Regions from separate parts of the Homo sapiens genome. Here regions 1 and 2 are each linked to region 3. Evidence: fine-mapped expression QTL. A gene starts in region 3. Each other region holds a variant in brackets. All regions are shown on one strand. Distances are from middle to middle.

Region 1 (4,243 bases), 67 kb after region 3:
AAAGGAGGAGCAAAGGCATGTCTTACATGGCGGCAGGCAAGGGAGTGTGTGCAGGGGAACTGCCCTTTATAAAACCATCAGTTCTTGGGAGACTTATTCACTGTCATGAGAACAGCACAGGAAAAACCCACCCCCATGATTCAATTACCTCCCACTGGGTCCCTCCCACAACACATGGGGATTATGGGAACTATAATTCAAGATGAGATTTAGGTGGGGACACAGCCCAAACCATATCATTCCATCCCTGGCCCCCCCCCCCAAATTTCTTGTCCTCACATTTCAAAACTAATCATGCCTTCCCAACAGTCCCCCAAAGTCTTAACTCATTTCAGCATTAACTCAAAAGTCCACAGTCCAAAGTCTCATCTGAGACAAGGCATGTCCCTTCTGCCTATGAGTCTGTAAAATCAAAAGCAAGTTAGTTACTTCCTAGATACAATGGGGATACAGGCATTTGGTAAATACACCTGTTCCAAATGGGAGAAATTGGCCAAAACAAAGGGGCTACATGCCCCATGCAAGTCCGAAATCCAGTGGGGCAGTAAAATCTTAAAGCTCCAAAATGATCTCCTTTGACTCCATGTCTCATATCCAGGTCATGTTGATGCAAGGTGGGTTCCCAAGGTGTTGAGCAGCTCTGCCCCTGTGGCTTTGCAGGGTACAGCCTCCCTCCTGGCTGCTTTCACTGGCTGGTGTTGAGTGTCTGCAGCTTTTCCAGGTGCACAGTGCAAACTGTCGGTGGATCTACCATTCTGGGGTCTAGAGGACTGTGGTCCTCTTCTTACAGATCTACTAGGCAGTGCCCCAGTGGGGAGTCTGTCTGGGGGCTCCGACCCCACATTTTCCTTCTGCACTACCCTAGCAGAGGTTCTCCATGAGTGCTCTGCCCCTGCAGCACACCTCTGCCTGGATATCCAGGCATTTCCATACATCCTCTGACATCTAGGAGGAGGTTCTCAAACCTCAATTCTAGTCTTCTATGCACCCACAGGACCAACACCACATGAAAGCTGCCAAGGCTTGGGACTTTCACCTTCTGAAGCCACCATCCAAGCTATACCTTGGCCCCTTTTAGCCATGGCTGGAGCAGCTAGGACAAAGGGCACCAAGTCCCTAGGCTGCACACAGCAGGGGGACCCTGGACCATGCCCAGGAAACGATATTTCCCTCCTGGGCCTCCAGGCCTGTGATGAGAGAGGCTGCTGTGAAGTTCTCTGACATGCCCCGGAAATATTTTCCCCATTGTCTTGGTGATTAGCATTTGCCTCCTTGTTACCTATGCAAATTTCTGCAGCCAGCTTAAATTTCTCCCCAGAACATGGTTTTTTCCTTTCTACTGCAAATTTTTCCAACTTTTTTGCTCTGTTTCCTCTTGAACACTTTGCTGCTTAGAAATTTCTTCTGCCAGATACCTAAATCATCTCTCTCAAGTTCAAAGTTTCACAGATTTCTAGGGCAGAGGCAAAATGCTGCCAGTCTCTTTGCACAGCAAGAGTGACCTTTACGGCCGGGCGCGGTGGCTCACGCCTGTAATCCCAGCACTTTGGGAGGCCGAGGCGGGCGGATCACGAGGTCAGGAGATCGAGACCATCCCGGCTAAAACGGTGAAACCCCGTCTCTACTAAAAATACAAAAAATTAGCCGGGCGTAGTGGCGGGCGCCTGTAGTCCCAGCTACTTGGGAGGCTGAGGCAGGAGAATGGCGTGAACCCGGGAGGCGGAGCTTGCAGTGAGCCGAGATCCCGCCACTGCACTCCAGCCTGGGCGACAGAGCGAGACTCCGTCTCAAAAAAAAAAAAAAAAAAAAAAAAAAGAGTGACCTTTACTCCAGTTCCCAAGGAGTTCTTCATCTCCATCTGAGACCACCTCAGCCTGAACTTTATTGTCCATATCACTATCAGCATTTTGGTCAAAGCCATTCAATGAGTCTCTATGAAATTCCAAACTTTTACGCATCTTCCTTTCTTCTGAGCCCTCCAAGTCTCTAGGAAGTTCCAAACTTTCCCACATTTTTCTGTCTTCTTCTGGGCCCTCCAAACTGTTCCAGCCTCTGCCTGTTATATCCAGTTCCAAAGTCACTTTCACATTTTTGGGTATCTTTACAGCAGCACCCCACTCTACCAGTACGAATTTTAGTCCATTTTCATGATGCTATGAAGAAATATCCAAGACTGGGTAATTTTTCAAGAAAAAGAGATTTAATAGACTCACAGTTCCACATGGCTGAGGAGGCCTCACAATCATGGTGGAGGGTGAATGAGAACAGCATGGGAACATCTGTCCCCATGATTCAATTACCTCCCACTGGGTCCCTCTCACAATACGTGGCAATTATGGAAGCTACAATTCAAGATGAGATTTGGGTGGGAACACAGCCAAACCATATCAGGACCATAAGACCACTTTTTCCTTACTTCACACTTTTGCTAGGACTAACTGAACTGAGAACACAAACATGTCAAGACAGGCAGGATGATTCAAGAATACTGGTGCGAAACCCAAAAAATAGATAGGGGAGAGGTTGCCCCATTTTTCCAAGCCTCTGTA[C/A]CTGTCATCCCACTGGAATGGTTCTAAGGTTACAGGCTTCTTGCAGGGGCTCATTTTCACATCTTTTTTTTACTTCCAGGCCCCAGTGCATTGTCTTAACAGGGGGACCCATGACAAGACCTGCTCTCCTGGACATAACTCACGCCTTTACCAAGAACAGTGGCCTTTGCATCTGCTGTGAAGTCTTTGTGGTAAGAGCCACTTCACCCCAGGGAAGTCCTTTTTCCTCCCTGCTTATCTTGGATTATTTTGGGTGAGGAGAAAAGGTACATGCAGTGACAGGAAAATAGCAAAAAAACAGTTTATAGGAGAGCCCTCTACCTTGATTCATAGAGCAAGGACAAGCAAGAGCCCGTGATCCTGAATTTAAACAGGTAGATGTAAAGCGTTTCAGATTTCATAAGAGACCAACTAAAAGTGACAAATATTTCCAAATGATGGCCTTTGAGTCAAGAAAAAGATAGCTGGCTCAGAAATAAAATGAAGGCATTTGGGGTGATAACTGTCTACAGAAATATAAAAAGATGGAATGAGCCAAATAGAGCACTATTATAGAGATTAACTGATGAGGAAAGAACCAGACATAATGGCCTTAAATGACAGCACATAGAATTTAGATTAAATATTTGGATAAGTTTGATGACATTGCAGATACTCTAAAAACTAAACCAAGTTTTTCATGCCTTAGATAAACATTCAGAGCTAAATGAATTATTTTTGCCCAGGAAATACATGGTAGACTAATAATAACTTATTGGTGAGTTTCCTAAGAGGTATTCAAAACTGGTGCTAGTAATTTAATCATAACTGTTGACCAATTTCTCAAGTGTGGAGAAAGCATTAAAATAATAATAAAATAATAAGCCAAAGGGTGCAGTGGCTCATGCCTGTAATCCCAGCGCTTTGGGAGGCCAAGGTGGGCGGATCACCTGAGGTCAGGAGTTCGAGACCATGACGATCATGGCAAAACCCTCTCTCTACTAAAAATACAAAAATTAGCCAGGCATGGTGATGCATGCCTGTAATCCCAGCTACTCAGGAGGCTGAGGCAGGAGAATCGCTTGAACCTGGGAGGTGGAGGTTATGGTGAGTCAAGATCACACCACTGCATTCCAGCCTGGGCTACAGAGCAAGACTCCATAATAATAATAATAATAATAATAATAAAGTCTAAGTCCTCCACACTAGCCCACCTCTACTTGTATTCCCTCTCTCTCTCTCTCTCTATCACACACACACACACACACACACACACACACACACCACTGAAAATTCTCAGCTATCAATGCATTTTTATAGTACTTAAGTACTTACGTATTCTTCAAACCATTTTTCTTCAAAGCATTTTTCTACAGTTTTTCTTATTGGAGCCACACAATAGCCTAGTGAAGCAGGAAAGAAAAGTAGCCCTGTTCCCATTTTAGTGATTGGGAAAGTGAGATTCAGGAAAATTAAATTATTGCACTGGATCACATGACAAGAAAGTGGCAGAGCCAAGATATCAGTCCAGGCCACACAAGTGTGCTAAGTGTCACGCCTTGAGGAGAAAGCCTTAGCACACTTGCATCCTTGGGAGTACTATTGAAATCCAGCACCACTACTTAAATCTCCAATACCTGCCAAGGAATAGGGCTGTCAGGAAGTCAGGTGACTTTAGAACCAGTCAACTCTGCCATGATGCTGGGGGCTAATTT
Region 2 (4,243 bases), 350 kb after region 3:
TCTCTCCATCTCTTTGTTCATAACAGAAAAGTCTGATTTAATAAAGAATCCCCAAGCAAACAGTCTAATGTATTCTTTTTGAAACCTGGAAGCTTAATGTGCTCTTTAGTTTCACTCTTCATTGAGTAAAGAAAAAAGTGATTGCTGTTTATAAGATCTCAACCTGTGTTCTTGAGAAAAGTCAGCATGCAGTAAAAGGGATATTAAAGAAACAACAATTTAGTTTATTATAAAAGTATCACTTACTGTTTTAAATGAAATATCTTAACCCACAGATACATGATTATATGTGGAAAATCATTAAATTATGTTTTCTAGCCAATTTCAGTTTTGTCTTAGACCAGAATTTTCCATTCTCTTGATGTGTTGAATGTATTTTTTAAAATGTTTTTGAAAATCAAGATTTTTACATATAGGCAGAACTAGCTGTCTTGTTGATCATGATTTCTGGCCAACAGAAAATATAGACAAGGCAATTCTCCACTGGCTGTATACTCCAGGTCTGAAGACAGAATAAGCTCCTTTATGAACCCATTTGCCCACAGCCCCTCACATCTGACCCAAGGACTGGAAACACCAGCAAGGAGCAAGAGCCACAACCTGGTGGCAGAATCTCTTAGAAAAAACAACAACAACAACAACAACAACAACCAAACATGAAGAATTTCACTCTCAAAATAGCAATATAACTGCCATTGTGATTCAATGGGTTTTCAAAACTTTTCTTATAAAAAACATTTTTTTTCTTGGATGTTGAATAGCAGAGTTAGAAAGAAACAGGAAGCAAATGCTGGAAAGATCCAGATTTATGAAACGAATAGCAAAGCTAAAGAGAAGGCAGTTCATTATCCCCACCCCCCCAATTCCATTAGCACCCTAACCTCTGACAATGGGTCACTGATGGGCAGCTGAGGCAGTTAAAAGTCTAGCTCTCTGGTCACTGTCAACAAGTTCATGGGTATTAGCTAACTTTGTAATCCCAAGATGAACAAATTCTTCAAAACTCACTGGGATTTTCTAAAAACGGGAAAAATAAGAAGGCACCAAAAAACAACTAAACTTTTGTAAAATACTACAATCCATCCCTTGATAATTTTAGAGTTTCAAGGTGACTTATTTCTTCTCCTGACATTCAGAGGGATACATTTAAGGGCATCCAAAGGAGCTGTATGTTGTACATGGGAGCTGAAGGCCAGGAATGACAATATCAGAAGTGGAATTTATTGAAGTGGAATGTAATGGAGACCCACAAAACTGTGTGACTAAGCTCAAGTTCTGTTTTATTGCACATTACCCTTAGAATTAACATACAAAACAACGCCAAAGTATTATCTATTTGCCTCAGAAAAGCATATCCTGAAGTTTCTGAAAATATTGCAACTTGCTATAAAAAGTCCTGAGGCTGTCTAAAGGAAACAGATACAGGCTGAGAGTTTTCAATCCCATCAGTTTAGTGTGGAGCTGCCTCTGTTCACTTCCTCCTGTTTCCTGCCAGACATCCAGACAATAAAAGAATTTGTACAGCTGGAAGAACAGGAGTAAAAGCCAAAAACAGAGTAAGGGCTTCTACGGGAGGCAGGAGAAGCAGCTAGCAGGCGACATCTGGGGATATTTAAAACTGTGAAACAAATCCTAATTTATTTTGGACTTGTAAAAAAATGCAAAATGTAGCATGCAAAATGTCGAGAGAAACAATTTTCTTCAGGTCAATTAAGCACAACCCATGAGAGAGGAACTCAACAGTTTCAAATGAAGAAAAAAAATTAAGAAAAACATAAACTACCTTGTTCACAAACCTTGCTTTGTGTTTCTACACAGCACTGCCATAATGCACTGCATCGCTGTAAACAGAATCACACCACCCCTGGAGTCAGAGGTACATACAAACACCTCTGGGGTCAGAAAGGGGGAATGGTTGGCAAGAAAACATTCAGTAAGACTTCAGCTGCTCTCTCGAGAGCCACGTTCCTAATGCCTTAGTTGGATATCATGCAGTCAGCGAAATTGTGAAGTTATGTAGCTGACACTACTTTTCCATTCTCTTCAACTTCATTGGAGAATGGCTCTCCAGAGCAAATAAGATTAATCCATTAATAATTCCATCAGCCCGGGTTTACCTTGACAAGCTCCCGTGCGGATATTTGGAATGAAGCCACGGCGGCAGGGGTGAGGCTGGGCAGGACACATCTCACAGGGGTGGCCCCAGGCTCGGCCGACTGTGGCACAGCAGAGCGTTTTTGTGCAGACAATCCCGCTGAGTTGTCCCTGGCACATCTGGTTGCTGATCACAGTAAAACATGGGCCTGTCCTGTAATCTGAAAATAAAGAATAAAAATCTGATGAAAATCCAGAAAAGCAGGAACCATCATGCAGAGGAACAGCTGTGCTCCATCTTGCTTGACTCCAAATTGAGAAATGAATTTCAGGGACAGAATCATGCATCACTGTCCCT[G/A]TGTAAGGCCTTGGATAGACCATTCTACTTCTGAACCCGATTTCCTAACCTACAAAATAGGGATGAAAACATCAGTTGTTACCCACTTTGAAAACGGCATTGTGAGGATCAGGCGAGCTAATGGAAAACTCTTTACAACTGTGAATTGCTATACAAATGTAACATGGTAATATTATTATCCACTCATTACTTAAGAAAATATATCAGTGCCTACACTGAATCAGCTCCTATGCCTGATACAGATGCTTCAGTGACTAAAAGAGGCCAAATCCCTGACCTCACAGAGCTTCCAGTCTATTGTTATTTAGGGCTGAGAAAGCAAAGAATTTTGAAGCTTGCAGTGAGGCAAGTCATGGCACCTTCTTCCTGGGAGTTCCTTCAATAAAAGAAATGGTTATCTGTTTCTTTTGAGTTGGGGTCATCTTATTTCAAATACAAAACAAGCAAACCAACAAACAAGAATTTAAAATTTTGTCCATGCAAAACACATTAGGTTTTAATATAAAGAGTGAGGACACTGGTCTGAAATCATTGTAACCCCTAGGCAAAAGGACCATCTTAAAGCAAAACAGGGATAAGCTAAGTCCACAAGAGAATTTCCAATCAGAGCAGTCTACCACCAGCTATAAGATCTGCCTCTTTTTTTTTTTTCCTACAGAGAGAGAGCCAACAACAAATAAGAAAGATAAAGACGTAGTGAGCACAGAGGACCAAACCCAGGTTGTCCCCTTGTGAGAGAAATCAGGGCCATAATATCCATTTCCGTGGTTCTACAATGACCTTGACAGACAAGGGAGGCTGGGCTGGGGTAAGACTCATGGGCTTCTATCCACAAACCAACATTTGCATGCTTCCAGGTCATTTTCAGAAGTGTTTAGGTGCAGTGATCCCTGTGAGTCTAAAAATGGACTCAATGACCCCAGTAAGTTCCTTTCACCTGTGAACGCAACAGTTTTATGAAAATCACTGGCTGTGCTAATGAAACTACTGGGATGCTTTCATTATTTTCTTCTTTCTTTAAGTAGCTCATAGGACATCGCAGACATGCTATTTACTAAGGAAAAAAGGACAACTTTTCATTACAGTACCAGCAAGAGTCAACATTCTGGATCGTAACAATGTTTTGGCAATAGCTGAATCTTATCTGCTGGCATCCCTCTATCCTGTGTGTTCTCTCTTGCTTTCTTTTTCTTGCATCTCCACTCCAACCCCTCCCTTGGAATTTCAACTCCATCTGCTCCCCATCACTACGTGCTCTTCCTCCCTCTCCTCTGCTATCTGCAATGAACCACCTCTGTTCAATGGTGTTGCAGAAACAGCACTGCTCTGATGCCCATGCTGTAAGATCAACCTTCTGAAGAATTCCAAAAACAAAACTCCATGCCAGTCATATATGTAAAGAAGACTACCATATCCAAGCTATGGCAGCACTGGAGAGACAGACAGGATGGTCCAAATGCCGAGTCCCCAGTTCCCCAGCTCCCTCCCTCCATGCCAGTGTTATGTCCCACTCACAGGATGCAAGATAATTTTAGATTTTAGTAGTCACATATTAATTTTAATGTGTATTATGAAACAGCATAAATATATCAGACTCATGATTTCACAGTTATGTCTGCTATGAGGATGATGAATTGAAAAACCTTTTAATTCAATTTTTTAAAAATATTAAATACTAGTACAGGTGATATGCAAACAGGTCAAAAATTGTGTGAGTGATATCTACATGCAACCAGACTCACCATGCCAAAAGACAAGCCTAAGACCTCTGTGTCCCTCTTCTCTGCATGA
Region 3 (4,243 bases):
GCATTTACCATGGAGCCATATTTCAAGTCATAAAGTGACAAGTCAAAGTCTCCAACCGTGATAATAAATTATTGGAGTGGTGCTTATACATCCGCAGCAGAATCATGTAACTTAGTTCTGCTCCCTTGAGCTCGGCCTGCAAAGAGAATGAATGGTTATAGATCATAGTATGGAAATACAGACTCAACTATACCACTGGTCCAGACAATGTCAAAATCAAAATCAAAGGAATCAAATTCATAAAAAATTGTTCATACTGTACAGACAAAATGTTTACATGATTAGTCTCTGAACTAATTTTGAATAAATTATTTTTGTAACAGTTTGGAAACATACATAGAATAATAGATGGAATAAAATGATCTCCTTTCCCACAATCTATGACTGACTGCATTGCCAGAATTCAATATCTCTAGCATCTTGCTACTTTATTTTTATTTATTTATTTATTTTGAGACAATGTCTCGCTCTGTCACCCAGGCTGGAGTGCAGTGGCACAATCTCAGCTCACTGCAATGTCCGCCTCCTGAGTTCAAGTGATTCTCCTGCCTCAGTCTCCTGAGTAGCTGGGATTACAGGCACCCACCACCACACCCAGCTAATTTTTGTATTTTTAGTAGAGACAGGGTTTCGCCATGTTGGTCAGGCTGGTCTCAAACTCCTCACCTCAGGTGATCCTCCTACCTCGGCCTCCCAAAGTGCTGGGATTACAGGCATAAGCCACCACTCCTGGCTGCATCTTGCTACTTTAATTGGTCCCAAAACTAGTAATCTCTGGCATCACCTAGGAAATTGTCAGAAAAGCACAATCTGAGACCCAACCCCACACCTACTGAATCAGAGTCTGCATTTTAGCAAGATCGTTGAAGATTCATATGCATGTTATACTTCAAGAAGCACTGTTCCAGCCCAGAGTGCTAATAAAGAATGTGGCCCTTGGCAAGTTTAAAAAGGGTCAATAAAACCATGGCCATGGAAATGTCCCTAGAATAAGATATGTCTTTCAGTCTTTCATAGAGGGCAGTTAGTTCACCTACATTTTAGGACATCTTAATAGTTTAAAATCAAAAAACAACTTTTAAAAAATGTGGTCTTATATGAACTCTCAGTTATACATTGCCCATTTTTTTGTAAGACCATTACATTTCCTAAATCAGTAAATACTCTAAATAATCATGAAGTTTGTCTTCACTTTGTTATTGAATCTAGTTGCAGTTACATTACGTTTTCAAAGTATTTTCTTTAGATGAGTGTCCCAATTCTGTATCTACATTTCCCCCAACGACTCACAGTCCAGTAGTTATAAGGTGAATAATTAAGATTGTAGGGAATCTAAAAGTGCTTGCAACTTGTAGGTTCTGGATAGAGTCGCAAAACATAAATAGAATTGGGAACCCTGTAACTGAGTTTGTTGAAACGGCCAGACCCCTAAAATAAGGATAAAGAGCAAGGTTTCTGTTGTTGTTTTTTTGTTTTCCTTTGCTTTGCTTTGCTTTACCTTGCTTTCAACGTCGGTTAGGTTTAGAATCTACATATTCAACACTGTTTAGAAAACGTACCTGGCAGCTATCTAGAGCTTTATCAGAGCGTTTCCTGGCTGCTATTTTGTTGTCTTCTAGCTTGTGTTGGGGAGACAGGTCTCACCACGCACCATTTCAGCACTACGGACAGCGCCTAGGCGCCTTCTCCTAGAAACGGAAGGGGATTCAGTTGTGTTTGTGTGGAAGAGAGAAGGGAAAGAGTAGAGGAAAAGAACTCCAAACGACACATTCAGTCTCCAGTTAAATCAATACACCTTTCACTCCTGAATTTTCCTTACCGGATAAGAAGAAACGTGTAAGAATTTAGTGCCTACTGTTCTACTGAAAACGGCTGTCACCAAAGCACAGCAAAATGCCCGCAGCACAGCCAGGAATGCAGCAAAGAGAGCAAAACAAGGATTTCAGCAGTAAATCAATTAAACCCTCACTGCCTTAGTAAACAAAGATAATGATGAAATCTAATTGCTAACCTTCAGGGTGTGTCGTGAGAAAAAAAAGGAGTGTCTATTTTTTTCTTCCTCTCTTCCTCTTTCTTTTAGCAGAACTGAAGAATAGAGCCTGTTGCTGCTGGAGCTGATTCCCTTCCCCTCCTCATCTCCCACCTCCTTTCAGTCTCACATACACACACAGATGCTGCCACAGACACACGCGAGCGCAAATATTTACACACTGCCACACCGAAGAAATCCATGCACGTTTTCCTGCAAACGCGCGCGCGCACACGTACTTCGGCGGGCGCCCACGTCCTCTGTCTCACCAACAGACACAGACATTTACACTTCTAGGCCAGGAAAGCGCTAACCAGGGCCCTGTGACTCTACGCAGGTTCCAGAACACGCCTTCTACATTTGTTACTGAACCGATCAGCGAACACAGACAAACGTGCCAACACTTAAGTCTACTGGCTGGACTTCATCTCCATGGCAACAAGCATGGAAGGTGAGACATCGCTGTCTGCGAAGTAACTTTCTCCCCCTTCCCTCCGCATTAACTGACAGCGTTCCAAATGCAGGTCCAGATGAGAAGCATGTCCTCATTCTCTTGTATTTCTGAAGCAAAAGAGCGGGGGGTGGGGCGGTGGGTGGAGGAGCCAGTAGGTCTGATAAGTTCAAATTCTAAAGGAGAAACAGCACCCCTAATGCTAGCGCCACTGCTGATGCGGCTGCCAGGCGGGGGAAAAGTGTTGTGTACGTGCAGATTGCTGATGCTTCTCCCATAATGTTTTGTAGGAAGTTTCCATGCTTCTTCGGTTTAGTGCGTAGAAAGAGACCTGGAAACAAACAACGCAGAATGATGATGATGGTCTAGGTTTCTTTAATGAGATATCTGGAGAATTTTCAGACCAGGTTTCCCAGTGCGTTGGAAGGATTGAGTGTCAGAGTCCTTGAGCCATCCAAAGATTCTCTTAAGAGAGAAATTCTCTTAAGGTTGAAATCTGAGGGTTTAGGGGTGGATTCTGGCAGATCCTAAGGTCTGGGATCTCTGGAAAGCCCTGAAATTTATGCATTTCACCATGATGAAGACATCTAGGTTTGTAATTTAAGGTTTTCCTTTTATTCCAACACATTCGATTCTTAATGATTAACTACCTCTGTGCAGATGTGGTTTCAATAATGCTTCTTTTCTCTCTTTTACTGGGATATAATCTTTATATTTTGTGTGGAGTGTGTATATGTATGGAATGGTTCATTATTTTTTAAGCTTGGGTTTTCTTATATGTCTTATTTCATGAAATTATGAATGTCATCATTAGCAGTAGAGATTATTATATCTAATGACCAGTGCTAAAATACTTTCTACCTAGAACATCATATTCCACTCTAATAGTTATTATTTCAGGTTTATTGTTTGGAATACCATTACTAGAGAAATAAACAAGAGGAAAAACCTGTTGATTAAAATAAAACACAGGAGGTTCTTTCTTTAATGGGTACACACTTTTTAACATTAGTTTCTGTAATTGTGCATTGTTGCATGATTAAATGATTTTATCTGAAAGGTATATTTTTATATCTCTAGTAAGGTTATTTCACAGAAGACATAAACATCACTAACAATATTCATGAATATGAAAGGCTGCATATCAGGTATAAAAATACTATCATCTTTGCTTAACTGCTTACGGAGATATGATTTGTAAGTACTGATCATAGGAAGACTTTGTTTTTTACTTACTAGTTGCCAATTACAAAGCAACTTCATGAGATTTGGGCTATTTGATATCTACAGGAACACCCCTGGCCCAATCTTATGACTCATCAGTACTTAGAAATCTTGGTGCCTGACAATTGCCATGAAGGAAATGTACTTTCAACCAAGTTACTCATTGCCAAAGTACCTAACCATTTATTCCAGTGAATATGGCTCAAGACAATATTTTATCATTTGCATCAGTAGTATTAAAAGACACTTAAATATTTTAATCATTATATATATTGATCCTGATATTTAAACTGTGCATTGTTTATTTTACCCAATTTTGTGGTATAATATATTTCAAATAACTTTTACCACTACCCAATTTTACATTCTACTTATTTTTGAAAGTTCATTTTTTCTTAACTATTTTTATATGGATTTTTTAATATATGGTTTTGTAACTTAATCTAAATTTTCTCAGATTTCTTTTTTTTTCTATTTCCCAATAAACAGGATATTAAAATGATGCTTCTCTGGAGCTAGGCATTACAGTGTCTGTTGTG

Evidence for each region. PIP is the estimated chance that this variant, and not a neighbour inherited with it, causes the effect.
Region 1: its variant is the best candidate, but not a certain one, in a credible set for the expression of CTXN2-AS1 in whole blood (INTERVAL, PIP 0.62).
Region 2: its variant is the best candidate, but not a certain one, in a credible set for the expression of CTXN2-AS1 in whole blood (INTERVAL, PIP 0.61).

Annotation. Positions count from the first base shown.
Region 1 is chr15:48,256,572-48,260,814 of GRCh38, forward strand. SLC12A1 (solute carrier family 12 member 1) reads left to right here. Exons shown (of 27, transcript NM_000338.3): 17 at 2,629-2,740. Among named protein-coding and RNA genes, the nearest start is that of SLC12A1, 52 kb to the left of the region's middle. The variant C/A (reference allele first, on the strand shown) is at 2,550.
Region 2 is chr15:48,535,494-48,539,736 of GRCh38, forward strand. FBN1 (fibrillin 1) reads right to left here. Exons shown (of 66, transcript NM_000138.5): 7 at 2,118-2,315. Among named protein-coding and RNA genes, the nearest start is that of FBN1, 110 kb to the right of the region's middle. The variant G/A (reference allele first, on the strand shown) is at 2,453.
Region 3 is chr15:48,189,374-48,193,616 of GRCh38, forward strand. CTXN2-AS1 (CTXN2 antisense RNA 1) reads right to left here and starts at 2,336. Exons shown (of 3, transcript NR_184082.1): 1 at 2,212-2,336; 2 at 1,560-1,688; 3 at 1-136. It overlaps CTXN2 (cortexin 2), which reads left to right and starts at 2,292. Exons shown (of 2, transcript NM_001145668.2): 1 at 2,292-2,480. RefSeq lists an enhancer at 2,296-2,799.